4 separate regions of the Homo sapiens genome follow, and all the other regions are linked to region 3. The links come from fine-mapping of genetic effects on gene expression. A gene starts in region 3. Each other region holds a variant in brackets. All regions are shown on one strand. Distances are from middle to middle.

The links. PIP is the estimated chance that this variant, and not a neighbour inherited with it, causes the effect.
Region 1: its variant is fine-mapped to the expression of ATP13A3 in esophagus muscle (GTEx, PIP 0.91).
Region 2: its variant is fine-mapped to the expression of ATP13A3 in whole blood (TOPMed, PIP above 0.99).
Region 4: its variant is fine-mapped to the expression of ATP13A3 in whole blood (INTERVAL, PIP above 0.99).

Annotation. Positions count from the first base shown.
Region 1 is chr3:194,533,742-194,541,197 of GRCh38, reverse strand. No RefSeq gene overlaps it. Among named protein-coding and RNA genes, the nearest start is that of TMEM44-AS1, 47 kb to the left of the region's middle. RefSeq lists enhancers at 3,884-4,178, 3,904-4,198 and a silencer at 3,904-4,198. The variant A/G (reference allele first, on the strand shown) is at 2,699.
Region 2 is chr3:194,524,011-194,531,466 of GRCh38, reverse strand. No RefSeq gene overlaps it. Among named protein-coding and RNA genes, the nearest start is that of ATP13A3-DT, 41 kb to the right of the region's middle. The variant CTTTG/G (reference allele first, on the strand shown) is at 4,011.
Region 3 is chr3:194,483,095-194,490,550 of GRCh38, reverse strand. It overlaps ATP13A3 (ATPase 13A3), which reads left to right and starts at 3,549. Exons shown (of 34, transcript NM_001367549.1): 1 at 3,549-3,985; 2 at 4,716-4,757. It overlaps ATP13A3-DT (ATP13A3 divergent transcript), which reads right to left and starts at 3,411. Exons shown (of 2, transcript NR_033929.1): 1 at 3,379-3,411; 2 at 2,006-3,095. RefSeq lists enhancers at 277-396, 2,530-2,749 and silencers at 3,420-4,079, 4,110-4,159, 4,250-4,309.
Region 4 is chr3:194,439,287-194,446,742 of GRCh38, reverse strand. ATP13A3 (ATPase 13A3) reads left to right here. Exons shown (of 34, transcript NM_001367549.1): 15 at 1,957-2,018; 16 at 5,282-5,432. Among named protein-coding and RNA genes, the nearest start is that of GP5, 44 kb to the right of the region's middle. RefSeq lists a silencer at 7,217-7,417. The variant T/C (reference allele first, on the strand shown) is at 3,590.

The sequences.
Region 1 (7,456 bases), 51 kb before region 3:
CCCTGTCTCAAAAAAAAAAAAAAAAAAAAAGTCAGAGAGATTTTGTTTTCTGAGGCCTGCTTCTGAGGCCTAAAATGCCCCTATGTTACAGCAAAATACTGCAACAAGGGTTATGGGAGTTACGAACCAAGAACCATAGATGAAAACCTCTCTTTCTCTTTCTCCCTCTCAAATAATATCACAAATACTTAGGAACCGGTAAGCAAGGGATTCGATTCCAGATTTAAACCTGGAAATGAGTGACATTGCTTAAGGATAACGTGCAGAGTGAGAAGAGAATTAGGCCCAGGACTGGGTCTTATGATCCCCCAAATTTAATAGTCAGCTAAAGAAATAGGCAAAAGAAACTGAAAAGTGGTCAGAGAGGAATCAGAGAGTTTGGCATCTCAAAGCCAATAAGAGAGTGTTTCAGGAAGGAGGAAGTGGCTGGCTGCGCTTTGTGTTTTGCTGAGAAGTCAGAGCGAGCAGTGTTCCTCACGCAGCAGAGGTCCCTGGCCAACTTAACAAATCCAGCTCTGGCAGAGTGGGAGTGGAGGAGCCAGTGGAGGGAGCTGGCTGGAGGTGGCTGAGAAATGACTGAAAGTCAGGAATGAAGACAAGCAGTGTGAACAACTCATTCAAGACATTTGGAAAGGGAGCAAAAGATACACGAGCAACCAGAGGGGAACTTGGGAGCAACAAAGACATCAGTTTGTTTTGTGTTACGATGGGGATGGCTGGAATGTGTGTAGTTTAAACATCGATGAGAAAGGATGCTCCCTCCGTCAACACGAGGTGCAGATGTGGCACAGGAGGGTGAGGCAATTCTCACAGGAGATTTCTATTTTTTACTTTTGTAGGGATAGGGTCTTGCTATGTTGACCTGGCTGGTCTCAAACTCCTGGCCTCAAGTGATCCTCCTATCTTGGCCTCCCAAAGTGCTGGGATTGCAGGCATGAGCCACCCTGGCCAGACACCAACAGACTTCTATTTTCTTTCTTTCTTTTTTTTTTGAGACGGAGTCTCACTCTGTTGCCCAAGCTGGAGTGCACCGCTGCGATCTCGGCTCATTGCAACCTCTGCCTCCCAAGTTCAAGCAATTCTCTAGCCTCAGCCTTCCGAGTAGCTGGGATTGCAGGTGCCTGCCACCATGCCCAGCTAATTTTTTATTTTTAGGAGAGACGGGGTTTCACCATGTTGGCCAGGCTGGTCTTGAACTCCTGACGTCAGGTGATCCACCTGCCTTGGCTTCCCAAAGTGCTGGGATTACAGGCATGAGTTACCGCACCCAGTCTGAAACTTCTATTTTCTTTATGAAGTTGGGAATCAGATCATTTGCTAAGAGAGAGGAGAATCGGGTGCAGATTTGGAGATCTGAGCAGAATGGAGAAGGTTTGAAACTGTCCTTATGGAGAGGACAGCCATAGACTAAAACATAGAGAGGGATTTCTGGGTCTTTCTACATGCCACATTCCTTCTGCGAGTTCTTCCTTGCCTCTAATTTCACAGCTAGGATACTGAGGATCAGAGAGGGGAAGTGATTTGTTCAAAGTCACACAGCAAGTGAGTGTTGAAGCTTTGACTAGAAGTCAGCAGTTGAGGCCTTTGGGTGAGGACACCTCCACCCCAGGGTCAGCGGGTACTTTTGCAGGTGTCTTTTCTTCACTACATGCAAGATATCAGGTGTTTTTCAAAGCATGATCTCCTGGGTCCTATTAAATGATCTATCACCCCCTCACACAAAGCCTTACACATAGATTGACTCAAGCAATGTTGTTCCAGTGAATGAATGATTAGAAATCAGGTTGTCCTTCTGCCTCAGTCACTACCCTTCTTCCCATCTCACCTCGATTTCAGAATAAGCCAGGGGGAGGACAGAAATGCCGAATCCCCTTGGCATTTAAGGTAACAGACTTCAATTTCTGCAATATCTCCTTTCCTAAATCGGGACATGGATAACATAGTCATTTATATACACCACACCTTGTTCTGAAAAGGCTTTAGTACCTCTAGGGTATATCAATTGCTAAAAATAATAATAATAATGCATTTCTCTTTATTGTGGGTGTCCTAATACTCCACAGAACTGGAATTGGCTATTACAGACTCCACTAATTAATTCATGGTATATCCTCAGGGGCTTGGGAGCTCATTATGTAAATAAATGCAAAATAGATGGCAAATTAGAATTTCTACCCCACAAACTTGTCACATTACAAAGATAAAATCAGAAAAGAGTAATCACTATTTATCCACTCAACAGGCCAGTTGAGCTAATAAGTTTTTTTTGCAGTTACATAGACATAAACCTCATGTGAATGCCAATTAGAAGACTCAAACCTTGCTATGGCAGGACGAAGGCCCTTGACCATGGGATCTGCAATGACCAGAGATGCAGAGCGTAACAGACACAATAATACACATGTGGCAGTTGGGAGTCCTTCATCCTCGGCTTGGTTCCATCACTGTCTTTCATTCTTTTTTTTTTTTTTTTGAGACAGTCTCACTCTGTCACCCAGGCTGGAGTGCAGTGGCACAATCTTGACTGACTGCAACCTCCACCTCCCAGGTTCAAGGATTCTCCTGCCTCAGCCTCCCAATTAGCTGGGACTACAGGTGTGTGCCACCACACCAGGCTAATTTTTGTATCTCTCTTTTTTGCTGTTGTTGTTGTTGAGACGGAGTTTCAGTCTTGTCACCCAGGCTGGAGTGCAATGGC[A/G]TGATCTCGACTCACCGCAGCCTCCGCCTCCCAGGTTCAAGCGATTCTCCTGCTTCAGCCTCCCGAGTAGCTGGGATTACAGGCATGCACCAGCACGCCTGGCTAATTTTGTATTTTTAGTAGAGACAAGGTTTCTCTACGTTGGTCAGGCTAGTCTCGAACTCCTGACCTCAGGTGATCCGCCCGCCTCGGCCTCCCAAAGTGCGGGGATTACAGGTGTGAGCTACCGCGCCCGGCCAATTTTTGTATCTCTAGTAGAGACAGGGTTTCACCATACTAGCCAGGCTGGTCTCGGAATCCTGACCTTAAGTGATCTGCCTGCCACAGCCTCCCAGAGTGCTGGGATTACAGGCGTGAGCCACCACACCCGACCCCGTCACTGTCTTTCTAAGCCACTTCTCTTCTTGATCTGCTTCTTGATGGACTAAACAAGTGCTCTCGCAGCCTTGACTCTGAGCTTTTGGAATCTAAACTATTTCTGGCTGTGGCCCAGGCCTTACACAGCTTTGGTGGCTCCCCAGGCAAAGCAACCACCTGCTTGTCCCGAAGGCAGTCAGCATATATTTGTGAGCAGGAAGAGCATGGTCATAACTGGTCAAATTACTCCCCTGTGACTGGCAAGGGCTTTGGATTTTGTCCTCACCGCTTCCTCCAGTGTTTGAAATTCTGACTGCTGCACTCTTTGCTGGGTAAACTAATGAGTGTATTTGGCTGGGTGGCATTCACTTTCTCCATCACTTTCTACAAGCAGAGCAGAACCTTACTCGGAAAAGCATTTCTAAGAAGCTTCATATCTAAGCCTGTCTATCGGCTGGGCTGGGGGATCGATCATATATGTGAAGATAAGGCAAAGACCACGAAGTAGCCCATGTGGGGGAAAAGAAAGTCTGCCTTCTGACTTGGGCTTCTATATTTCTTCTTCCATTTCCTGAGCCCTTTTTATGAGCATGGCACTGTGCCAGGGCTGGCAGCCAGTCCTGGCCTGGGTAAATGACAGCATGAGGAGGCTGGTAGGAAGGTAGGTGTGCTGTATCCTTGGTGGAAGGGCGATTAACCTCTGGGCTAAGCCTCAGGGTCAGGCCACCAGGCCCCAGGAAGGGAGCTGTGCCTCCAGAGCAGGCATGCATGTTCTGTCTGGAACACACGAGTATGCAAGTTGCCAGAAAGGTCCCTGGACTCTGTTGTTGTAGGTAGGTTCTTTGCTAGGCAATGGGAATTTAGAGATGGATAAAGCATGATCTCAGCCCTCAAGGAGCTCACAGTGGCTGCTCATTCATAGGCATTCCCTCTAAGCATGAGAAGTCCCAGTGGAGTGGCTAAAATCAAGTTTCTGGACATGTGGAAGTAAGGACCAAATTCTGAATGCTCTCTGGGCCAGAAAAATGCTGTTCTACCAGGAGGGCCTGAAAAAGGCAGCTGGACTTTACCCCTTCCCAGTGCAAACAGTGGACTCTATTGCAGTAACCACTATCCTCTCTAACTAGCACAGGTTTATTAGAATGTTAGAAAATCATTATTTCCTTTTATACTTAACTTGCTGTTGACAGTGACTCTGCACATATTCTCTGGCTGCAGCCCTGAACCAAGAGAGGAAACAGTAGCCTTCAGGCACCTCTCCAGGCTTTAAAATTATAAAATGTATCATATTTAGAGAAAAGTATGTGTACAATCTAAAGATTAAATAACGAGGCCGGGTGCAGTGGCTCACACCTGTCATCTCAGCACTTTGGGAGGCTGAGGTGGAAAGATGGCTTAAAATCAGGAGTTTGAGACCAGCCTGGGCACCTTAATGAGACCACCAGCTCTACACACACACACACACACACACACACACACACACAACAACAACAACAATAACAACAACAACAAAACCAAACTAACAAACAAAACCATAAAATAAAACTAGCAGAGTGCAGTGGCACACACCTGTAGTCCCAGCTACTCAGGAGGCTAAGGCGGGAAGAGCTCAAGAGGCAGCAGTGAGTTGTGATCACGCCACTGCACTCCAGCCTGGGCAACAGAACAAGACCCTCTTTCAAAATAATAAAATAATAGGCCAGGCACAGTGGCTCACGCCTGTAATCCCAGGATTTTGGGAGGCCAAGGCAGGCAGATTACCTGAGGTCAGGAGTTTGAGACCAGCCTGGCCAACATGGTGAAACCCCATCTCTACTAAAAATACAAAAATCAGCCGGGTGTGGTGGCTCACTCCTGTAATCCCAGCTACTCGGGAGGCTGAGGTAGGAGAATTGCTTGAGCCTGGGAGATGGAGGTTGCAGTGAGCCGAGATCGTGCCACTGCACTCCAGCCTGGCCAACAGAGCGAGACTCTGTCTCAAAATAATAATAATAATAATGACAAACACCTATCACCCACTAGTACCTTGAGGCTCAGCTGTGTGCCTCCCTGCAATCTCTGCTTCCCTGGGCACCACATCCTCCCCAGGTACTACCTTTAATGTCAGTCGTTACTGTTTGCTTTATAGTTTTGCCCTCTATATGACATATCCCTAAACAATCTACTGGTTGGATTTGAATAACTGAGTGGCTAGCACAAAGCTAGCTGTGTAAGGAAAGAGCACTGTTGCCAGTATTACATGAGATTTCCTGGGAAAATAAGCTGAATAGAGTTGCTGGGTCATGGAAAACAAGCTGAATAGAGTTGCTGGGTTATAATGTAATTTCAACCTTCCTGAGTCTTTAAAAGCCTCTTCTGGAGAAGTCAGAGGACAAAATCATGATCAAAGAGCAAGGCATGGCGGCATGTGCCTGTAGTCCTAGCTACTCAGGAGGCTGAAATGGGAGGATCACTTGAACCCAGGAGTTCTGGTCCAGTCTGGGCAACATAGTGAGACCCCATTTCAAAACAAAAACAAGGCTGGGCACAGTGGCTCACGCCTGTAAGCCTTTGAGAGGCCGAGGCAGATGGATCACCTGAGGTCAGGAGTTTGAGACCAGCCTGGCTAACATGGTGAAACCCCGTTTCTACTAAAAATACAAAAAATTAGCCAGCTGTGGTGGCGTGTGTCTGTAATCCCAGCTACTCGGGAGGCTGAGGCAAGAGAATTGCTTGAACCCAGGAGGCGGAGGTTGGGGTGAGCAGAGATTGGCCATTGCACTCCAGCTTGAGCAACAAGAGCGGAACTCCGTCTCAAAAACGAAACAAAACAAGAAAACAAACCAGAACAAAACATGCATCTATCTTCCTAATTGGAGGGGAGAAAGCCAAAAAAAAAGAAAAAAACAATCGTACACAGGCGCAGATCTAGGATTTGTGGGGTCTGAAGATTATATAATTTGGAGGACCCTTTTGTAAGATTATAAGTTCAAAATTACAAATACTAAATTAGGTACAGGGCCTTGGGGAGGGCATATATGAATAAAGGGCTTCCGTTTCATTAGTTTCAGGTGGATAAGTCTCTAACCATGAGGGTTCACCTGTGTCTGGGCATCTGGCAGATCTGCAGGATGGGCCAGGCACTGAAGACCCTGTAGAAATAGGGTCAGAGGGGGAAGGATGCTTTGTATTTTCTGCTTTTAAGCTCATTAGCCTACATTCAGCTCTCAAGAGTAGGCCTAAAGCACAACACTTCAGAAACGGGCTGTTTTATGAAATGAATACGCTCAGCCGATTCTACCAGCAGAGTGTAGAGAGGTGAGTGGGAATTTCCATAATATGTAATGAAACTGTGACAAATATGGATAAATCGTCCTCAAGTTTGAACAAGGTATGATATCAGTGAGGATTTTTGGGTGATGACAGTTCTCAACCTGTTTCTTGAGTCACAGTTTTCCACATGGAAATGGTTGTTCTCCACATGTTGTACACAGCGATTATCATGGCATTTCCCCTTACTATCCTCCCAGGGAATCTCCTTGCTTCTCTCCTATTTTAGATTCTCCTCCTGGATTTACTTGGTCTTTGCGTGGAGTATCTTCTCCGGTAGCTTATAGAGAAGGAGTGCATGATAGATAAAAGTTTTTGAAATCTTACATACTTGAACATATTTTTTTCTGCTCTCATACTCAATTGATAGTATGGCTGGGTATAGAATTCCAGATTGCAAGTTACATTTCTCAGAATTTTAAAGGCACTGCTTCATTGTGCTTTGGCTTCTAGTGTTGCTGATGCGAAGTCCAAATCCATTTTGCTTCCTAAACTTTGTATATAGCCAATTTTTTCATCTCTAGAGGCAATGAAATCTTCTCTTCCTCCCTAAAATGATGCTGGCTACTTATTGGCTCTTAAATATCACAGTTCATTCTATTGTTGAATTATGACATTGATTGCTTTGTCCCTTCTTTTCTCTTTTTTCTTTCTGGAAACACCGGTATTCAGATATAAGATCCCCTGAACTAGTACTCTTAACTTCCTAACCTTTTGTCTACTATTTTATATCCCTTTATCTTTTTGCTATATTTCCTGGGAAATTTCCCTAATGTTGTATTTCAGCTATTATGTATAATTATTTTTTTCTGCTTAAGCAGATCATTTTTCCTTATATCCTTATCATTTTTTCCTTTCTATGGAAGTATTGTATGCACATTGTTTAAAAATTATACAGCACTCATTTCAATAGCACATTTGATAAAACTGGAATGAGACAGGCCAGGAGTGGTGGCTCATGCCTGTAATCCCAGCACTCTGGGAGGCCGAGGAGGGCAGATCACAAAGTCAGGAGATTGAGACCATCCTGGCTAACATGGTGAAACCCTGTCTCTACTAAAAATAAAAAAAAATTAAAAAAAAAATTATCCC
Region 2 (7,456 bases), 41 kb before region 3:
ATCTACTCGGGAGGCTGAGGTAGGAGAATTGCCTGAACCCAGGAGGCGGAGGTTGCAGTGAGCCGAGATCTCGCCACTGCACTCCAGCTTGGGTGACAGAGGGAGAATCCGTCTCAATAAATAAATAAATAAATAAATAAATAAATAAATAAAACTGCATGAAACTACCATACAACCCACAGTTGCTCTCCTGGGCATTTATCTCAGAGAAAAGAAAACTTACATTCACACCAATTGTTCATAGCGACTTTATTCATAATAGCCAAAAACCAAGTCATGGTATATGCACAGGACGGAACACTACTCAGCAATAAACAGGAGCAAGCTATTGGTGTGTGTGTGTGTGTGTGTGTGTGTGTGTATATGTAATGAATCTCATATGTAATGAATCCCTAGGGAATTAGGCTGAGTGAAAATAGCCAATCTTTACAAATTGTATATTGTATATTGTATGCTTACATTTATCTATATTACACTCTTGAAATGACAAAATTATGGAGAAGAGACTAATAGTTGCCAGGAGCTGGGGGCGGGGAAAGAGGTGAGTGTGGCTATAAAAGGGCAACACAAGGGGTCCCAGTGATGATGGAACTGCTCTGTGTCTTGACTTCATCAATGTCAACAGCCTGGTTGTGATATGTTACTATACTTTACAAGATGTTACCACTGGGGGAAGCTGGATCAAGGGATCTCTCTTTTTTTCTTTTCTTCCATAAGTAAGGAAACAATCTCTGTATTATTTCTTATAATGTGAATCTATAATTATTTCAAAATAAAAAGTTAAATTAAATAAATCTGTACACAAATGTTTATAGTGGTTTTATTCATACTCATTAAAAACTGGAATCAATCCAAATGCCCAAGAACTGGTAAATGAATATATAAAATGTAGTAAAACCTTACAGTGAAATGCTACTCAGCAATAATAAAGAATGAACCACTGATATGTAAAACACGAATGAATCTCAAAAGCTTCATGCTATGTGAAAGGAGTCAGACTCAAGACTATCTACTATATAATTCCATTTATGTGAAGTGCTAAAAAAAAGTCCAAAATCTTAGTTATAAAAAGCAGATTAGTGGTTGCCAGGAGGCAGAGGGTAGGGGTGTAGAATGACTGAAAAATGTTTCAAGGTAATTTTTTGGGGGTAATGAAAATATCCTATCAATTTCATGATTGTGGTAGTGACTATATGATGGTATATTTGTTAAAACTCATTTATTGTGCACTTAACATTGGTGAATTTTATTGCATTTAAATTGTACCTCAATAAAGTTGACCCCAAAATTGGGCTAATAAATTTAGACTATTTTGCGACTTGCTTTTTCATTTAACTATATGTTGTGGACTTCTGGCTTCCAGACAGAGAGCTTTACCTCCTTTTTAATAGTTCCATAGTCTTTCATTGTATGGATGCAGCACAATCCCACAATTAATTTAATTAATCTTTCCTTGATGAGCATTTCTGCTGTTTCCAATTTTTTATTCTTTTTTAAATTTATTTATTTTTTTTGAGACGGAGTCTCGCTCTGTCACCCAACCTAGAGTGCAGTGACATGATCTTGGCTCACCGCAACCTCTGCCTCACAGGTTCAAGTGATTCTTCTGTCTTAGCCTCCCGAGTGGCTGAGATTACAGGTGTGCGCCACCATGCCCACCTAATTTTTGTATTTTTAGTAGAGACGCGGTTTCACCATGTTGGCCAGGTTGGTTTCAAACTCCTGACCTCAGGTGATCCACCCACCTCAGCCTCTCAAAATTTTTTATTCTTACAAGTAATGTGATGGTTAACCTTTTCATGTATCTTTGTATACCAGAGAAATTGTTTTTATTGAATAGACTTCTAAAAGTGATATTTCTCGGTTTAAGGATATATGTAATTAAAATTTTTGGCCGGGTGTGGTGGCTCACGCCTGTATTCCCAGCACTCTGGGAGGCTGAGGCGGGCAGATCACCTGAGGTCAGATGTTGGAGACCAGCCTGGCCAAGATGGTGAAACCCCATCGCTACTAAAAAAATACAAAAATTAGCTGGGCATGGTGGCATGTGCCTGTAATCCCAGCTATGCAGGAGGCTGAGACAGGAGAATCGCTTGAACCTGGGAGGCAGAGGCTGCAGTGACCAAGATTGCGCCACTGCACTCCAGCCTGGGTGACAAAGCAAGACTCTGTCTCCAATAAATAAATAAATAAATAAATAAATAAATAACATTTTCGTGTGAAGCACCAAAATGCCTGACAAAATAAGGTTGTGTCAACTTGCACTGTGATCAATAGTGAATGAGTCCTGTGGCTATTTCTAAGGCATTCTTTCTAACCTTATTTACTTGTTCCTTTTCCCACAGCCTTTTCATCCAGTTGACGTTTTTCTTTTCACAGCTCTCTGTAGGATTTCTGTAGCTCCAAACCTTGACTGTTGATGCTTTGTTAGGGCCTGTAGAATGACCTCGTTATTTGAGGATCATTCGATCAAAAAGGAGCACATATGATGGTGGAGAGACAGACATGAAAAGCAATTACTATATAGCATGAAAAATGACAAGAGACTTGTATATTACATATACTGATAATAATGATGAAAGAGAAGATGATGTTGTTGCTGATAATAGCTAAAAATTATTTAGCACTTACTATATGCCAGGAAGAAGTCAAAGAACTGTATAGACATTAATTCATTTCATTCCCACAACAACCCTCGGAGGTAGAAATTATTACAATTTTCCCCATTTGGCCGAGCGCAGTGGCTCATGCCTGTAATCCCAGTACTTTGGGAGGCCAAGGCAGGCAGATCACTTGAGGTCAGGAGTTCGAGATCAGCCTGGCCAACATGGTGGAATCCTATCTCTACTAAAAATACAAAAAAATTAGCAGCGTGTGGTGGTGTGCACTTGTAATTCCAGCTGCTCGGGAGGGAGGCAGGAGAATTGCTTGAGCCCGGGGAGGCAGAGGTTGCAGTGAGCCAAAATCGTACCACTGCACTCCAGCCTGGGTGACAGAGCAAGACCGTCTCATAAAACAAACAAACAAACAAAAATTGCACCATTATACAAACCCCTTGGCTGGGCATTGAAAAATGAGTAGGAGTTAATTAGGTGAAGAAAGGGCATGGATTAGGCCACGCGGTGGCTCATGCCTTTAATCCCAGCACTTTGGGAGACCGAGGTGGGTGGATCACTTGAGGCCAGGAGTTGAAGACCAGCCTGGCCAACACGGTGAAACCCCATATCTACTAAAAATACAAAAATTAGCCAGACCTGATTGCAGATACTTGTAATCCCACAGCTACTCAGGTGGCTGAGGCACGAAGATCACTTGAACCCGGGAGGCAGAGGTTGCAGTGAGCTGTGATGGCACCATTGCACTCCATCCTGGGCAATAGAGTAAGACTCTCAAAAGAAAGAGAAGGGCGGGGGTAGGGGTGTGGAGAGAGAGGGAAGGAAGGCGGGGGGAGAGGGAAAGAATGGAAGCAAGGAAGGAAAGAAGGAAGGAAGAAAAGAACAAAAGAAGGAAAGAACAGAAGAAAGAAAGAAAAAGAAAGAAAGAAAGAGAAAGAAAGAGAAAAGAAAGAAGGAAGAAAGGAAGAGAAGGGGAGGGGAGGGGAGGGGAAGGGAGGGAAGGGAAGGAGGAAGGAAGGAAGGGCATGGATTAAATGGAATCCTAGGAAGAATGAAAAAATGAAAAATGTTTAGTGTGTACAGGCTGGGCATAATGGCTCACACCTGTAATCCCAGAACTTTGAGAGGCCGAGGTGGGTGGATCACTTGAGGTCAGGGTTCGAGACCAGCCTGGCCAACATGGTGAAACCCCATCTCTACTAAAAATACAAAAATTAGTCAGGCATGGTGGTACACACCTGTAGTCCCAGCTACTTGGGAGGCTGAGGCAGGAGAATAGCTTGAACCCAGGAGGCAGGGGTTGCAATGAGCCGAAATGGCGTCAGTGCACTTGGCCTCCAAAAAAAAAAAAAAAAGGAAGAAAAAAAACGGAAGAAAAGTGTGTACAAAGGCACA[CTTTG/G]TATGATAAAACAAAGTGCATTCAGATGTCCTGTGAGTAATTTCAGATGGCTGACATCCAGAGGGAACTAGGGGACAGGAGAAGAAGAAGCTGGAGCAAGCTCATGAGTAAGTGGACGTGAATGTTTCTCATTTCCTCTTGCTAAGTGCTTTCTCACACACTACGCATTTTGCTGGCGCAATCTTACTAATTTGTACTTTCTGATGAAGTCCAGGGGAAGACTTCTCGTTAGGAAGTAATTCCCAGATTGAGATGCAAATGTTGAGAAGAGTCAACCAGACAGAAGAGGAGATGAGTGTTCCGGCAGAGGAAGCTGTGTGAGGTGTCATGGCTGCAATTTTTCTTTCTTTCTTTCTTTCTTTCTTTCTTTCTTTCTTTCTTTCTTTCTTTCTTTCTTTCTTTCTTTCTTTCTTCTTTTCTTTCTTTCTCTTTCTTTCTTTCTCTTTCTTTCTTTTTTTCTTTCTTTCTTCCTTCCTTCCTTCCTTCCTTCTTTCTTTCCTTTCTTTCTTTCTTTTTTTTTTTTTTTGAGACAGGGTCACTGCCCTGTCACCCAAGCTAGAGTGCAGTAGGGCGATCTGGGCTCACTGCAACCCCCACCTCCTGGGTTCAAGCGATTCTCCTGCCTCAGCCTCCCGAGAAGCTGGGATTACAGGCGTGCACCACCACAACTGGCTAATTTTTGTATTTTAGTAGAGATGGGGTTTCACCGTGTTGGTCAGGCTGGTCTGGAACTACTGACCTCAGGTGATCCGCCCGCTTCGGCCTCCCAAAGTGCTGGGATTACAGGTGTGATGAGCCACTGTGCTTGGCCCATGGAATTTCTAAGGAACTGGCTGGTATTGAGGATGGCTAGGTATAAAATGTAAAGGGGGAGGAGACACAAATGAGGCCAAATAGGGTGGCAAAGACCAATCCATGTAGGCCACATTAAGGAGTTCAAACATTATGGTGGTTATAAAACCAATCAATGAAAAAGAAATGACCAAATATCCCCTCTAGGCAGGCCATGCTCCGGGGGCAAAGAAGATACAATGATGCGCAATATGATCCTAGCCTTCCAGAGGGCAAAGAAGATACAATGATGCGCAATATGATCCTAGCCTTCCAGAGGGCAAAGAAGATACAATGATGTGCAATATGAGCCTAGCCTTCGAGAAGCATACAGACTAGCTGGGAAGGTAAAACATGAGCAAACATAAGGAAGGTGATCAATGGTTACTAGCCACATATAACAAGAGATAAATGTGAAATGTTGGAGTTTACAAGAGAGAAAGACAACTGGTTGGGTAAGAGGCAGGGACAGTGGTAGGGAGAAGGGACAGGAGTGGGGCCTTAAAGAATGGGTACACTAGGCCAGGCACAGTGGTTCACGCCTATAATCCCAGCACTTTGGGAGGCCGAGGCAGGTGGATCACCTGAGGTCAGGAGTTTCAGACTGGCCTGACCAACATGGAGAAACTCCATCTCTACTAAAAAAACAAAAGTTAGCCAGGCGTGGTGGTGCATGCCTGTAATCCCAGCTACTCGGGAGGCTGAGGCAGGAGAATTGTTTGAACCTGGGAGGCGGAGGTTGTGGTGAGCTGAGATCGCGCCACTGCACTCCAGCCTGGGTGACAGAGTGAGATTCCGTCTCAAAAAAAAAAAAAAAAAAAGAAAAAGAAAAAGAAAAGAAAGAGTTCTCAGTGAACACTTAGTGTTTCTCATTATTTTGCACCTCTTCTATTGAATGTAGTCATTCTCCTTTGTTAGGTCAGGAACCCATGAGAGCATCTGACTGAAAAATCACAGACCATCACCCTATCCAAAAATGCATATATGGGCCAGGGGTGGTGGCTCATGCCTGTAATCCCAACACTTTGGGAGGCCAAGGCAGGCAGATCACTTGAGGTCAGGAGTTTGAGACCAGCCTGCCAACGTGGTGAAACCCCATCTCTGCCAAAAATATAAAAAATTAGCCGGGTGTGGTGGCACACACCTGTAATCCCATCTACTCAGGAGGCTGACATAGGAGAATCGCTTGAACCTGGGAGGTGGAGGTTGCAGTGAGCTGAGATCATGCCACTGCACTCCAGCCTGGGTAGCAGAGCAAGACTCTGTCTCAAAAAAAAATGTATATAGGTACACATGTATATGTACCATTTTGCAACATCAGGATGCTGAAACTTCATAGGTGGCTGAAACTTGCAGTCTTCAGGTTGAGAATTCCTGTCCCTCTGTGTCCAGCAGACAAGTGCTACCTGAAGGCCATGACGAATTGAGACAAAATTCTAACACTGCTACGTTATTGAGAGAAAGGATGAGAAGGTATGAAACAAATTTTAATGATGAATTTTTGTGGATTTTTGAAATGCATAAATGGGATGATTAATAATAACAAAAAAGCTCTGTTTATATCATCATAAAACACACTATAAATCTACGGGATTCAGTCTCCACTTGTATATCATCTGACACAGAGCTGAAGGTGGAGGAGAAAGGTTAACCCTTCTCATTCCCTTCCCCACCCCACATACAGTTGGCCTTTTCTGGTCAGGTTTCCGAGGCAGTAAGCATTTTTTTGAGCGCCTACAATGTGCCAGACACTGTTCTGGGCACCTGGGTAGAAAGAAAGATCTTGAAGACTCTTGCCCTGTAGGGAAGTTTATAGCTTGGGGAACAGTGGAGGAAGAACAGAAAAAAAATCACACTAATATTTAATTACTTAAAAAAATTGTTTTTTCAAGGCTGGGTGCGGTGGCTCATGCCTGTAATCCCAGCGCTTTGGGAGGCCAAGGCTGGCAGATCACCTGAGGTCAGGAGTTTGAGACCAGCCTGGCCAACGTGGTGAAACCCCGTCTCTACTAAAAATACAAAAATCAGCCGGGCATGGTCGCATGCACCTGTAATTCCAGATACTCGGGAGGCTGAGATAGGAGAATCGCTTGAACCCAGGAGGTGGAGCTTGCAGTGAGCCGAGTTTGCGCCACGTCACTCCAGCCTGGGTGACAGAGCAAGACTCTGTCTCAAAAAAAAAAAAAGTTTTTAAAACAGAGGCAGGGTCTTGCTATGTCGCCCAGACTGGTCGCCAACTCCTGGACTCGAGTGATCCTCCCGCCTTGGCCTCCCAAAGTGCTGGGATTACAGGCCTGAGCCACTGTGCCTGGTTCAAATCACACCAATAAAAGGGGTCAAAGGATGTGTTCAAATAGACTTGTGGAAAAGCTGAGGCAAAAAGAGGAGGTACTAATTTTGCCTGGAGGCAGAACTAGAAAAGAGCCCTGAAAAATGGGGAGGAGGGGCAAGATTCAGGAAGTATTCCAGGCGGGGAAGCTTCTTTTTCCCCTTTTAGCCATAGGAAGATAGAATTCCTGGGTCCCTCTTCCTGCCTCCACTAGTCTTGTCACCTGAGTTCCATACCAGCTATTTCAAAAAGAGAAAAGGCCCAAGGGTGTACAACCTTCCC
Region 3 (7,456 bases):
CAGCAACATTTAGAGAAGGACAGAGGAAGCACCTGCGGAGGCTGAGATGGAGTAGACAAAGAGAAACAGGGAGGAGGAATTCCAAAATAGAGTATGTTATCAAAACTAACAGCAAAGTGTCTCAAGGATAGGAGATGCATGCTGCTGAGAGAACTAGAAAGATAAGGCCTGCAAAGTGTCCTCCGGATTTGGCAACAGTAATATTTTGGGGAGGCCTAGCCCCTGGAGTTGGCCTAACAGTGGTCATTTTGTGGAGAGCTAGCTCTGTTAGGAGGAGGCTTTGCCTCTCTGGAGTGGGAAAATAGATCCTGGGGCCGATGTAGGATGATGCGCAGATTTGCGGGTGGGAAGATGAGGATTTTTCCTCTTGATGGTGTATGTTTTCTTAGTGAAATAGGAAGTAAGGGGACAGTGAGAGGGAAGGGCATGCAAAGATGGGGGTTTTGAGGATGAAGAAGATGCAAAATAGCCTTTCTGAGAAGTGACGTCAGACCTTACTGGTATGACTGTTACCTCCATGCAGCTGCAATCAGGGTTGGTGCTTACAGTGAGTAGGATCAGAGGGGGGAAGCAGTGGGCTTGGACCCAGAATCATCATGACTTGAGAACCAGTAAGTCTTCCAGGACTTCTCCAGACTGTTCCACTCCCTTTCTCTCGCCTATCTTGGGTTTCTCCTTTTTTCTTGCACCTTCTTTTCCCTCAACCCATAAACATGCTCAAGCCTTTCCTGGTGACTCAGCACTTCCTCTAAAGCCAGTGTCCAAATTCCTTTTTTCACCATTCTCAAAACATCTGTAACAGAAAAGTTTTTGGAATATCCAACTGCTTTTCTCTTTTTCCTATAGCTTTCCCTTGACTGGCTGTATGTTGCCTTACTTTGGCTGCACCTCGAATTCTGGGGCTCTTTGTGATCTTTTAAAAGCCCGAACGCGTTGACAGGTTCATGCTGGGTAGCTTGGAGGTATACACTGCAGCCAGAAGCCTAGGGAAACTCTTAGGATTTTAAATGGAGTGCATTGTAGTTCACTCTGAAGGCTGAATTTGTCTAACAATTCAGGCTGGAAAGGATGGATGCCAGTGGGAACCACCGTAGGAATTTTTTTTTTTAGATGGAGTTTTGCTCTTCTTGGCCAGAGTGGAGTGCAATGGCGCAATCTCAGCCCACTGCAACCTCCATCTCCCAGGTTCAAGCGATTCTCCTGCCTCAGCCTCCCAAGTAGCTGGGATTACAGGCATGTGCCACCACGTCCAGCTAATTTTGTATTTTTAGTAGAGATGAGGTTTCACCATGTTGTCAGGCTGGTCTTGAACTCCTGACCTCGTGTGATCCACCAGCCTCGGCCTCCCAAAGTGCTGGGATTACAGGCATGAGCCACTGCGCCCAGCCCACCATAGGAATTTGAGGCTTATTAAGGAGGTGAAATAGATAGGACTTGGTGATTGGGTAAGGCAGAGGGCTGAATTAAGAATGACTCACTCATTCCCAACTTTCTAATTCTGATGACTGTGGAGATGGTGGTGCCAACAGCTGAGGGAGGGGCAGCTATGAAAGCAGAGAATGAGTTCAGTTTTGGAAATGTCCAGTTTGGGGTGTCTGTGATATCTAGCTAGAGCTGCCTGGCAGGCAATTGGATATTTGGTTCTAAATTTTGTGGAAGGGGTCTGGGTTGGAAATTGCTAATTTGGGAGCTGCATCCATGAGGATGCAGGCAATCCCAGAAGAATGAGTGAAGTGAGCAAAGTTGTTGGCTTAGAGTGGAATCCTGAATTTAAGGTGCAGATTCACAAGTAGATGTTACCAAGGAGGCAGAGGCTTTACTTACCTTCATGTGATAATCCAGAGGGTTCACTCTTCTGAAACCAAGGTAGTAGAGAGATTCCAGAAGGTGAGAGTCATCCCAAGGTGTCAAATGTAGCAGAAAGAACCAGAGAGATAAGGCCTGAGGAATGCCTGCAAGGTTTGGCAAAATGAAAGTCATGAGTTGCTCTTGCCTGAGCAAGGTGAAGGGTTAGAGTTGGGGAGGAGAAGCCAGAATGCCAAGTGTTGAGAAATGAGGAAGCAGAGGCAGCCAGGGAAGACCATTGTTTGAGGTCCGCATGAAACACTTGGAAGCTAGTTGGAGGGAGCACTTCAGGAGGAGGTTGGCTTGATAATTTTGTTTTTAGGACTTGGAGAGGCCAACCTGTTTAAAGGCTGAGAGGAAGCAGCAAGGCAAGGAAGCCTGGGAGGTGGGGGAGGAAGATTTTAGGGCCAGACCCCACCCAGACCGTTTTCTTGTGGTTTGCCCAACACTACCACACACCCCTTAATCTCATTTAATCATTTCAACACCACGAGGTTTGAAACAAACGGTGAGGTATGAAACAAAACGGTGAGGCCAGGGATTGGGAAGAGAAAGCTGTGGTTCCATCTCGGTCCAGCGTGCTGTCCACGCCAAGAGGCGGGCAGAAATGCTAGCCTCACACAATCTAGGGGACCAGGGGTGGCTGTGGCGCCCTCCTGCCCGCAGGAGGTGTTATCAGTGTCGCGGACTCGGGCGGTGTGCTGCCCCTGGTGAGATGTCATCACGTGCGTGGACCAGGGGTGGCGGCCCTGGTAAGTGTCCAGGGACTAAGGGCTCCCTGCTCTCCAGGTGTGGTGGACGGGGTCCGCATGCATGCCGTCCTCTTCTCTAAGACGCTAAGGCGGCTGAGTTCTGTAAGTAGCGGCAAGAAGAACAGTCACGGAGCGGGCCGGGCACAAAGGGCGCAGGCCAGGTGGCCCCAGGCGGAAAGATGGCCGCAGCCAGAGGCTGCAGGTGGCCGGGCGCGCTCCCTGCGCGCGTCGCGGAGAGGACGCAGCGAAAATCAAACCCGCGATTTGGAAATCCGGCTGCGGCCCTACCCCGAGATAAGTCTTCTGCGGAGGGAAGTATTTAATTTGCATCCAGGACGGTCGGAAGAGGCGCCTTCCCGTCGGAGGCGAGGCGCGGGCGCGTGGGAGCTTTCTCGTGTGCGCTCCTCCCTGTCCTCCGCCTGCGGCCGGGGCGCAGAGTCCGTGGTCATATGAGAATGACAGTTTTTTGTCTGTTTGTTTTGGCGGGGGCGAGGGTGGCTAAAGGAATGAAAGAGCCTTGCATTAGGAGCTGGGCTCTGGTTTCCTCTCCACCATTCTAGCACAAGCTTCCTCCATGACCATGACTCTGGGCAACGTCTGTCTAGTCACTGAGCCTCAGTTTCCCTGTTCATAAAATGGGAGATTGGACTATGATGTTGTCATAGCCCAAAGGGGATGAAGTGGGATTTGCCGTTCCATTTCATCCCACCAGAAAAGCCGCCCTCCATTAGCCACCCCGGGCTGACACCCAGCGTTTTTGGACGGCCTCGCCTCCCCTTACCTGCCTCTTTCTTTCTTTTGCCCGTTCGAGGGTGGCAAAGGCGATGGGTGGGCGGGGCCTATAAATCGCCCCGCCCCTCCCCGCCCCTTCCCCGCCTCCTGACGTCGCCCGCGCCCCTCCGCCCTCCGCGCGGGGATGAAGCCACCACGTGACCTCACATCCGGCGCGGGAGTCCTGAGCCCGCGCGCGCTCCCCCGCCTGCCTGCCGGCTCTCCCCGCAGCGTGATCGGGCGCCGCCGCGGAGGGGAGGGGGGTTCTCTACGTCGCTGGCGGCGGGGGGGCCGTTTCGGAGTGCAGACCGCCCCCCTCCCCTGCCCACCTCCCGCCGCCCTCCCTTGTTCTCGCCCTGCCGGCTGCACGCCGCCGCCGCGGGCGCGGAGGAGGAGGAGAGCGCGGACGTCCCAGGGCCGGCCCGGCCCCGCCGCGGCGCCTCCTTCCCTCACCCTGAGCCGCAGCGCGCGGCGCCGGCCGAGGGCGATGGGGCTGGGCTGAGGCGAGGCGGCGGCGGCGACAGCGGCGGCCGGGTCCCCCGCGGTCCCTGGGGCTGGTCCGGCCGCGAGGGAGGCCGCGGAGGAGGCGGCGCGGCGGCGGCCAGTGAGCGGCCCCGGTGAGCGGGGCGAGGGGCGGGTGGGCAGCGGCGCCGGGGGAGGTCGAGGAGGCGAATGGTGGTGTCGGGGCGGCGGGTACCGGGCGAGGTCGCGGCCAGCCTTCTCGGGCCGGAGTTGGGCATCGCGGGGACGGGGAGTGTCGGGGGCAGGTGAGGCCAGGGCAGGAGCCCACGCGGTGGGTGCGAAGGCCTGGGGGGGACGCGCCGCCTGCCGGGGGCGAGCGTGGGGGCCGGGCGCTTGGTGGTTGGTAGTCAGAGCTTTCGGAAAGTCCTGTGGGAGGTGGAGGTCCTGTGGGCAGAGGCGTAGGGGTGCTGGCAGGGCCCTCGATGAGTCTGTGCGGGACCCTAGCTCGTCCTCAGCCGTGGAGTATGGAGCTGCTTGCCATCTCCGCATTTCACAGATAAAAGGAGTGAGTCCCGTGGAGGAAAAGTGACTTCTGACTTGCCTGAGGCCTCCCACTCGGACTCTGTGGCAGTGAGGACTAGAAAAACCCAGGGCCCTTTGCCCTAGCAGTGCTCTCGTGGCCACTCTCGCTATGGCCTTTCTGTCTCTCCATTCCCTTCACAGAGTCAGGTTCTGGTGGAAGTATGACCTCTGGCTTTTTTGGGGAGGTGAGGGGTAGGGATGAAGGGGGAGGGAATCGGGTTGGGATTGGCAGGAACTCAGCTGGGGGCTTCCCGGTGTGGAAGAAGCTTTGTGACAGGTGTTTATTGTTTCCTCTTCCCATAGATCTGACAGACATCCCTGAATCTTGGTGTTTGGACATAGGAGGTATGAATCACTCACATAATTAGCCGCTTTTAATCATCAGTGTCTTAGAGCTATATTTAGTGGTTATATTAGTGCAAAATGAATGGGTGTGGAGTCGTACACCTAGAAACAGACTTGTGTTCCTCTATACGATTCTAACTAAATGAGTAGAACATACCTGGGTATGTCATGGCTACTTTAGATCTATGAGGCAGGAAGTTAGAATTTAAGGAATCTAAGAAATGCAGGGACTTGAAAGATTATTGCAAAATAAAGCCTTTAAAAAGTATCGTTGTTAAAATGAAAGTGTTTCGATTTGATTCCTTTGAAGGGTGAGTACGTAATGAACAGTGCTCTATCTTTGGTTAGAGCTCAGCCTCTTTACCAAGGTACATGTATTAATTTTGTTTCACTGGAATATATGTGACATTATTTTCTCTAGAGGTTTGTTGCTTTGCTTAATAGACTACAGTTGCCAAAAATCAATGTGTGTGGGCATCTCATCCTGGTTTGCAACCCCTTTAAGGCAAATCAGTGCTTGGAAGTTGTTCGAAGTAGTAAACCTATTATTAATGATTGTTGTAGAACATAACTTTTGCTGGTATCTTTGATTTGCATTATCCTACCATTAGATCAGGCAGAGAGTGAAATAATTGAGATTTTGAGCCTTGTTAGAACAACAATGCCTGGCTTTGGTCAGGGGATTGGGTAGGAAAAGTGACACTATTTGGTTGCTTTAAATTTTTTTTTTTTTTTTTGAGATGGCATCTTGCTCTGTTGCCCAGGCTGGAGTGCAGTGGTGTGAACTCGGCTCACTGTAACTTCTGCCTCCTGGGTTTCAGCGATTCTCCTGTCGCAGCCTCCTAAGTAGCTGGGATTTCAGGTGTGTGCCACCACGCCCAGCTAATTTTTTGTATTTTTAGTAGAGACAGGGTTTCACCACGTTGGCCAGGCTGGTCGTGAACTACTGACTTCAGGTGATCTTCCTGCCTAGGCCTCCCAAAGTGCTGGTATTACAGGCGCTAGCCACCGAGCTTGGCGGTTGATACTTACATAGTTAGTTTAGGTCACCAAATATACAACACACAGAATCCGCTTTGGATAAACCACATTATCGAGCTCATTTTGAAATCCTATTTCTGTCTTCAAGATTTTCGAGATTATAAACCACTTTGTTGTCATTCACAAGTATAAAGTTCTTATTTCCAACATCACTGAGACTGAGAAAAAAGACAGAATAAAGATAAAGTTCCATAGGGCGTCCCCATCACTGCTTATTCTCACTGAGTTTGACCATTGAGTAGGTTGTATATCCATAGTAATATGATATAGTGCCTATGTCCTAAGATTACTATTTATCTTAGGAATAAAGCATATTCATATTCTAAAACCTCATATTCACAGTAGTTACAAAACCACCACGTTATACAAGCATAGTTTGATTCAATATATGGAATGGAAGAAGGAAAGAAACCATTATGTGCCAGGAAAAGTGCTCCTTTCTTTACATATGGTCTCAACTAATCCTCAACACTTTCAGGTAACAATATTCTTCTTTGTTAAAAAAAAAATTAAAGAAGTTAAGGAGCTTACAGTATAAGCGACTTTGAAGACAGACAGAAACCTAGCTCTGTGTTAATGTGCTTAACACAGAGGTTTCTGTCTCTGGGTTTATAAGGTTAGTTGTATGTGACTAGGCAACATAACATCTCTGAACCTCAGATTCTGGTGATAAATCAGATATGTCATCTTAATAGGTGTCACACACTAGATCACCTTCTTTTAGCACACAACTGTGAACTGTTTTGACTGTTTTCTTTGATAGGTGATAAGCTGCCAACTCCTATTCCATTTATCATCCATTCAAATATAGCTCAGTTTAACTCTTAGATATGTTGTACTCATCCTTTTCTCCCTTCTCTCTCCCTCCTTAGAATCACATTTCTTATTTTTTAAAGTTTTAAAAACATTTTTTAATACTGCTTCTTGCAGAACAGGGCTGCTCGATAGGCAGTGTGCCTGGAGTAGCCAGAAGAAATTAGAAATTAAATTTCTTCTTGGTGTTACCTCTGAATGTATTCTGAATATGCCATATCTCATCTGGATCCAAGAGGTAGCTGATGGGATTTAGCCTTGGTTTTGGAACATAGTTTTTGTGAAAATGAAGCTAATTGGCCTATGGAGAGAGTAAATCTGTAGTCGTCAAAACCATGTTGAGTTTTTTTGAGATAGGGTCTTGCTCTGTCTCCCAGGCTGGAGTGCAGTGGCTCTGTCATGGCTCACTGCAGCCTTGACCTTCTGGGCTCAAGCAGTCCTCCCACCTCAGCTTCCAGAGTAGCTGGGACCACAGGTGTGCACCATCACACCCAGCTAGTTTTTTTTTTTTTTGTAGAGGTGGGTTTTCACCGTGTTGCCCAGGCTGGTCTCAAACTCCTGAACTGAAGCAGTCTGCCTGCCTTGGCCTCCCAAAGTGTTAGGGTTACAGGCATTTATCACTGCACCCCGTCCTTTTTTCTTTTTTTTTCCCCCCAGAGAAAGAGTCTCGCTCTCTCACTCAGGCTAGAGTGTAGTGGCACGATCATGGCTCACTGCAGCCTTGAGTTCCTGGGCTCAGGCGACCTTCCTGCCTCAGCAACAAGGGTAGTTGGGACAACGGGTGTGTGCCATCATGTCTGGCTAATTTAAAAAAAAATTTTTTTTTTTTTTTTGAGACGGAGTCT
Region 4 (7,456 bases), 44 kb after region 3:
TACTGATAGGTTCTTGAAAACTGCAACTTTAAATGAAATGAAACCAGTTTTACCATAGGCTAATTGATACAAATGAGATTTAAGTTCCTATGCCATATTTTGGTCACAAAAAATCACCAAACTTCTAAATAAAGATCTAAAACACTTCTGATATTAATCATTGAAATAAATATGAGCTATACATTCATTTAAGAAAGAAATAAAAACAAGTAAGGTAATTATTTACCCAGTTGTTTTATTTCAGGCTCCTGGGTAGTGGGAGCGTATCTCAGCAACTGGCGGAACGAGGCAGGAACCAGCCCTAGACAGGATGCCATCGTATCGCAGGGTGTACTCACACTCGCGCAGACTGGGACCATTTAAATGTGCTGGTTCACTTAACTTGCGTAGCTTTGATGTGGGAGGAAACTGAAGTACCTGGAGTGAAACCCATGCAGACAGGGAGAGAACATGCAAACTCCATGTAGATAGTGGTCGCGGCTGGGCCTCAGCTCTCCCCACCACTGGCACCCATCGTGTTATAAAAAAAGACGGACAAAACAATCGTATTTGAGGACATGCTATATTTCTTATTTTCTCAATTTTTAATACTTTGGATATTGCTTATTTGCTCAAAGCTTCAGTTAACTCCAGAATTAGGCCTAGTAGTATTAATAGTAGTAGCAGTAAAGATTACGTGACCTTTAATTTTTTAGACAGTAATTCTTATTTAACACAATAGGCTCCATACATATATATTTATTATGATTTTATTGCTTGTAAGTGTGTATGTTTAGTGTTTGCTGTATGATTTTATTGAATATGTTTAAGAATTATGAAGGTCACTGATTTTATGTGAAAATGACAAATTATGTACCTGTGTGAAGTATATCTTGCCTCTTAGAAAGGTTTCTCCTTTCCTGAGCTGGAATTTTCTTTAAAGTTTTCTGAGAATTAAACTTTGACCAGAAAACCTTCTATCAAACTTTTCTGGGTAACTGATGTGATACAAATTTGATTTTTGTGCATTTCATTATTACAGAAAAAAATGGGAAACATGTTCTGTTAGAAAAAAATATGTCACATACTGCTACAATTATTTCATATTTATCAGTTCAAAAAATTTCACTTATGCTTGTCTTTTTTGGAAACTTTCCTAAAAGTTTTAAGACAAAAGTGGAGAAAAGATGTGTGTATAATAAACACTCATTTACTCATTACCCAGCTTTATCAGTTATCAACACATTGTCAGTCTTATTTTATCTATCTGCTCATTTTGAAGGGGACAGCATCAGACATTATTTCACTCATAACTACCTTAGTATGTGTCTAGAGGATATTTAAAATATCACTATCACATTTAACAGAATTAGCAATTCTTTAGTTTTTCTAATATCCAGTTGAGATTTCCTCATATCTCTAATTTTTACTAGTTGATTTTTCAGTCAGAATCCAAATAGGGATTACATTGCTTACAATTAACATGTAACAATTGCCTTTACTTACCCCTTATCTCCAGTTATTTTGTTGAAGAAACCAGGTCATTTACCTTGTGGATTTGGCCAGTTGCTTCCTCCTGATGTACTTTAACCTGTTCCTCTTGGCCCTCCTTATACAGTAATCCTTCCTTTTTTGCTTTATAGGCATCCTTTATTGATTGATAAGATAGGTTAACTGGTGCATCCTTCCATTGATTTTTTTTTTGATAGTATAAGCACGTAAATATATACCCCTCTCTGCCCTTACGCAGAAGATTTGTGATCATTGTTTGCACCCCCTCTCCCACTTTAACCATATGTCCTGGAAGCCATTCTCTGTCAGGGATCTTGCCTGTTTCTTTTTTTAACTCTGTAGAACTCCATTATGTTATATGTAGCATAGTTTCTAATGCTGTGTGGTTGCTTTTTATTTTTATTTTTGGGTTTTTTTTTGAGGCATCATCCATACTTTGTGCATGTGTGCTTTTTTGTTTTTTAGACTGGAACTCTAACTGAAGATGGTTTAGATCTTTGGGGGATTCAACGAGTGGAAAATGCACGGTAAATATTAGTTAGACTTGATAGTTTATTAGTTTATTTTTAATATTTTAACATGTGCAACATTCAAACATAAAGGAAGTAATAGACAACTGTGTACCTATACCAGGATTAAACCGTGGACATGTTGCCATATTTGCTTCAGATCGCTTCCTTTAGAATATTAAAATATTATAGAAGTTGCCAAAGTCCCACTGTATCCCTTCCCCAATTCCTACTGCCATTCTGAAATTATTTTTGCATATTTTATATTTTTTCTAAGTATAAATCTATAAATAAGTATCCATGAATGATATACTGTACATATGTTTTGCTGCTTTTTTCCCCTCTCCAAACTTTGTTTTCAAGATTTATCCATGTTGATATGTGCAGATCTAGTTTATTAATTTTAACTGCTCTGTCTTATTCCATTGAATGATTAAACCTTGTCTGTTCTTCTACTAAGGGACAATTCTGTTTTTTCTTCTTTTTTCTCTGCACTGTTGCAAATAGTGCTGGAATTAAAGTTCTTACACATAAGTCCTTGTAGGCATGTGGCTGAGTTTCAGTAAGCTAGATCCCTGTAAATGGAAAGGCTGGGCCGTAGCATGGGCACGGCTTCAGCTTTATGCTTTCTCTCTCAGTGGGTAAAGATCTTTTTACTCCACATTCTTGCCAAACTTAATATTGTCAGACTTGTAATTTTTGCCAGATGGATGGATATGAGTATTACATTGTGGTTTTTACATTCTTCTCATTTCTTATAAAATTGAGCATCTTTTCACATTTTGGAGGGAGGGTCATTTAGCATTCTTCTGTGTATTGTGTGTTTATATCCTCATTTTTCTGTTGGGAAGTCTATCTTATTTGTTAGAGGTCTTTTTTATTTTCTGGATAGGAATCTTTTTCAATATTGTGTATTGAAAATTATCCTATTAGTCTCTGGCTCATCTCTTTACTTTTGTTTCTGTTGCTTTTTGAAGCTCAGAAGTTTTACTCCTGTAGTTTTGTTTGTGTCTTCCCCCCTCCCCCTGTCAAAAGTCTGCTAAATTTTGGTGTATATAGCTTGAGAGACAGTATTGTTTGGCCAATGTAATTTCAAGAGTTGTTGTGTCTTGGAAAATAGTATGTCACGTTGTGACCTTTCTTATCTCTAGTAATGCATGTTGCCTTAAATTCTGTTTTGTCTTATAATTATATAGCTCTATACCAGCTTTCTTTTGCCTGATGTTTGCCTAGTGTGTGTTTTGCCACTTGTTTACTTTTCAGTCTTTCTGTGCCATGATGTGCACATTTATTCAGATATATTAGAAATTATTTCTACCATTGCTCCCCCAATTTACATACACATTTTCACATTCTCATTTTTTCTCTCATTTTCTCACTTTATGCATCCCAATCTTATACTGCTTGTTCTTACATTATCAATATTTATACTTAAAGTTCATGGATGTTAATACTGCCTTTTAACCACTCCCCTGCCCCCCAAAACAAACCTATGGACTGTAAGATACTTTTGGTTATTCTCCTCCCTTCCTATATGTATTTGTTGCATAATATTTTCTGATTATTATTTTGGTCTTATACAGTCTGCA[T/C]GCTTAGATTTACCTAGGTGTACTAATGCCTTAACCATTGCATCTTGTGTAAATTGCCATCTTCTGTAACTACATTCATTTGCTTTGTTTCACTGTCACTCTTTTTTTTTTTTTTAAGTGAAAGCAAATTTAAGAAAGTAAAGGAATAAAGAATGGTTCCTTCATAGGCAGAGCAGCCCACTGTCACTTGGGTGGTAGTGTAACTATACAGATTTCTAGGTTTGACATTTGTGTTCTCTCAATACTATGAAGCTGTTATTTCATTTCTCTTAATACCTTTTGTTAATTGGTACTGATAAATCTTAGTCTTTTTAGTAATCTTTTTTTTCTCTGGTTGCTTGAAGAATATTTCTTCACCCTTAATTTCTGCAGATTCACTGTGATCTTTTTATTTGTGTGTACAGGATTCATGATGCTTCTTGATTTCATGCTTTCATGTTTTTCATAAATTCTGGAAAATTTTCAGGCCTTTTTTACTTCCATTATGGCCTTTTCCTTGTGTTTTGTTTTCTCTCCTTCTGGGAATCCTAACCATGTGTTGGACAACACATGGTTTACTTGGTTCTTTCCAAGTCTGCTCCCACCCCTACTCTCGCATCTACAGTGTCTTACTCTTTGTATGTCTAATTTTAAAATGCCCTTTTTGCATTCTTTCAGATTTGCCATTCTGTTATCTTAAATTTACGGGATTCTTTATTTTTTTATTTTAAACATAGGAATTGGTATGGGTGTCTCGCTATATTTCCCAGGCTGGTTTTGAACTCCTGGCCTCAAATGATCCTCCTGCCTCAGCCTCCCAAAATGCCGGGATGACAGGCATCAGCCACTGCCCCTGGCCAAATTTATAGGATTCTAATTCTGTCTTTGTTATGTCTGTTGACACTCTTGGTGAATTGTTTGCTAGCGCATCTTTAAATTATGGACTCATTCTTAACAGAATTTTCTTTGAGCTCCCCTCTGGAGAAGTTCTGACTTTGCTTGGCTAAGAGCCCCAGTGGTAATCAACGGTGTCATACAGGCTTTAACTGACCTCCTGTGTTTCAATCCTTGCTCTGCTACTTATGGACGGTGTAACCTGGGACAAGTCACTTAACCACCCTGCTTCAGTTTTCTCATCTATAATGGGGGTAATAAAACACCTTTTCTATGGTGTGAGGATAATGGGCCAATAAATTTAAAGTTCTTAGAATAATGCCTGGTGCATAGTAAATATTATGCAGATATTAGCTATTTTCTTGGACTTTGGGTGAGGAAAAAGACAAGCTTATTCATAATTAATGCCTTTAGGTCTGTGGGTGAATTTTTTCTCATCTGCCCTTTTCCCAAGGGCGTGTAGCTCTTCAAGAGTACTGGCTTTCCTGAGTCAGAGGGATCCTTTCAGTACCAGCTACCCACTTTGCATGGGGCCAGACTTTGTTTCCTGTCCTTTTGTGGGTATTAAATCCCAAGTTCTTAGTTTACTGAGATGGCCCCCTCCCTTCATCCCCCCAGCAGCCATAGCATCAGCTCAAGTTCACACCCCTCTGGTTTTCTTTTCCCTGTATTTCTGACACTTGACAGTTTCTCTTTCTTAGGAGCTCAGATTGGGATTTAAAAGATTTTTTTTTTAATTACAAAACCAGAAAAGCCCTGTTAGAATATTATCTTGAATCTTAGAATTTATGAAACTAATTCAGTGTGTCTTCTGCTTAGATTTCTTTCACCAGAAGAAAATGTGTGCAATGAGATGTTGGTAAAATCCCAGTTTGTTGCTTGTATGGCTACTTGTCATTCACTTACAAAAATTGAAGGAGTGCTCTCTGGTGATCCACTTGATCTGAAAATGTTTGAGGCTATTGGATGGGTAAGTCAAATATTTTAAAATACAAATAACTTTAGGAAAATAATAGTTAAAAATTAAATTACCTCATACAAGGATTATTTCTGCTTTTTGTTTTAATGACAGTCTATCTTGTACCCTAAAAGGAGCTATGTAATTTCTAAAGCTACATCAACTGGAGAAATATTTTAAAAATCATGCAAAAGTAACTTTTAGTTAACCCATTTAGTACACCTTTAATAGAGGCTGACCAGCTCAGGCCCCTGCTTTGTGTTTAAGGTAAACCAGGGGTCAGCAACTTGGGGAGGGTAGAGCAGAGCCAGTAAGATGATCTCAACTGACACAATTTCTTGGCCACAGGCAAAGGTGTATAAAGTCGTTTGTCTTCATTGCTCTTTTTTACCTGTCTTTTGTTTACTGTGTCCACATACATGCACATGTTTTTGTTTGTTTATAACTTCCTTCTATTTTTGCCATTGGGACTTTTAATTTCTAAGTGCCTGCTTACGTTCTCTGGTTGTTATCATTTTACAGCATTCAGTTCTTCTTTTATAAATACAAAGTCAGTTCATTTTAGAGTTCCCTTCTGGCTTCTGAATTATTTATTTTCTTTGAGGTTATGGTCTCCTCTGGCCCCCACCCCATGGCTGGTGTCTCTCCTTCATGCTCTTGGTTTTCATTGTACATCTGGATGGCACTTTTTTACTCTAAAAATGAAGATCTGATTTGGTAATTCTGCATAGCTGCAGTGAGCTACTTCAAATTTTACCCTTGCCCATATGTATGTTAGTGTTTCTGATCGTGAAGGCTTGTTGGGGGATGGGGGATGGTGCTTGCTCTGTGTCTGGTGGGGTCTTATCGACAGGGGTTCTTAAAGTTTCAAAGGAATAGTTTCAGAGTTAGCCTCTCCGTTGCTTTCCTCACCCATTCTCACCATGCTTGCACATGTGGAGCTCTGTACTCTGGAATCCTCACCCTCATGTCAGCAGCCTTTGCTCTGTCAGACATTCAGTTTATGTCTCTGGAGGAGGACTCCCTGGTTTTTTGTTTGGCTTTCTTTAGCTCAGCTACTCTGGCTGATAAGTGTTCCTGCCTCACCTGGTATCTTGTGTTTGTTCTGGGCTACTGTTTCGTTCCCGTTTGTATCCATCCATAGGTTTCAGTTTGCCCTTTGTTTCCATATTTGAAATCCCTTCCTTCAGGTTTGTTTTCTGTTTACATTTACAGGATCCTCCCTTCCCTCTTCCCTGCCTCCCCACCTCCCTCCCTCCCTACCCACATTTTGAAAGGGAGAGAGGGAGGAGGTGACTGGATAAGTGCTCCATCTGCCAACTACTGAAAGTCCATGGTAAACACTCTTGAAGTTTAATTCTGAAAAGGAGGCCTCACTTCATTTATAGAGAGAATAACAAAAATGGGCTGATTTATCGTTCTTCTCTAAGCTTTTCTCCAACTGAATAGATTTTCAGTAGATTTAGTGTTCAGTGTTGGTGTATCTTCAAAGAAATTAAGAAAATGTGTATAATGGCATATTTCATTGGCCCTGAGTTGCTTTGATGCTTGATCCCACCAGAGCTTACTTATCCGTGAAATGGTTTCACATAGCCAGTCACAACTGTGACTTGATGTGATTGGTGTCATATGATACAAGATGCAGATGTCATATGATACAAGATGCATCCCAGTTTTAGAGATGTTAAGATACGAAAAAAGGTGTCTTAGAATTGTACAAAATTGGCTAATTTTTCACAGTTCCCTATTGTTTTCTCATTTATTGATCCCACTAATTATAGTGTGTGTTTAATATACGTTTTTCTTCGAATGTTTTTCACCAAAAAAGGTTCTTTAAAGTATTAGCTTAACTGGAAGTATTCAAGCTGAGAAACTCTAAACTCATATCTTTGTGCTTTAGCCTGTTCTTGACCCAGCGGTTCTGCTAACCATATCTGAGCTCTATGTACTTTTGAATCCTTTCTTGGTAGCAGAAAGGAATCACTGGATGAGCCTGAAAATTCTGGGGACTACAAGAACCTTTTATCTTTTGCAGA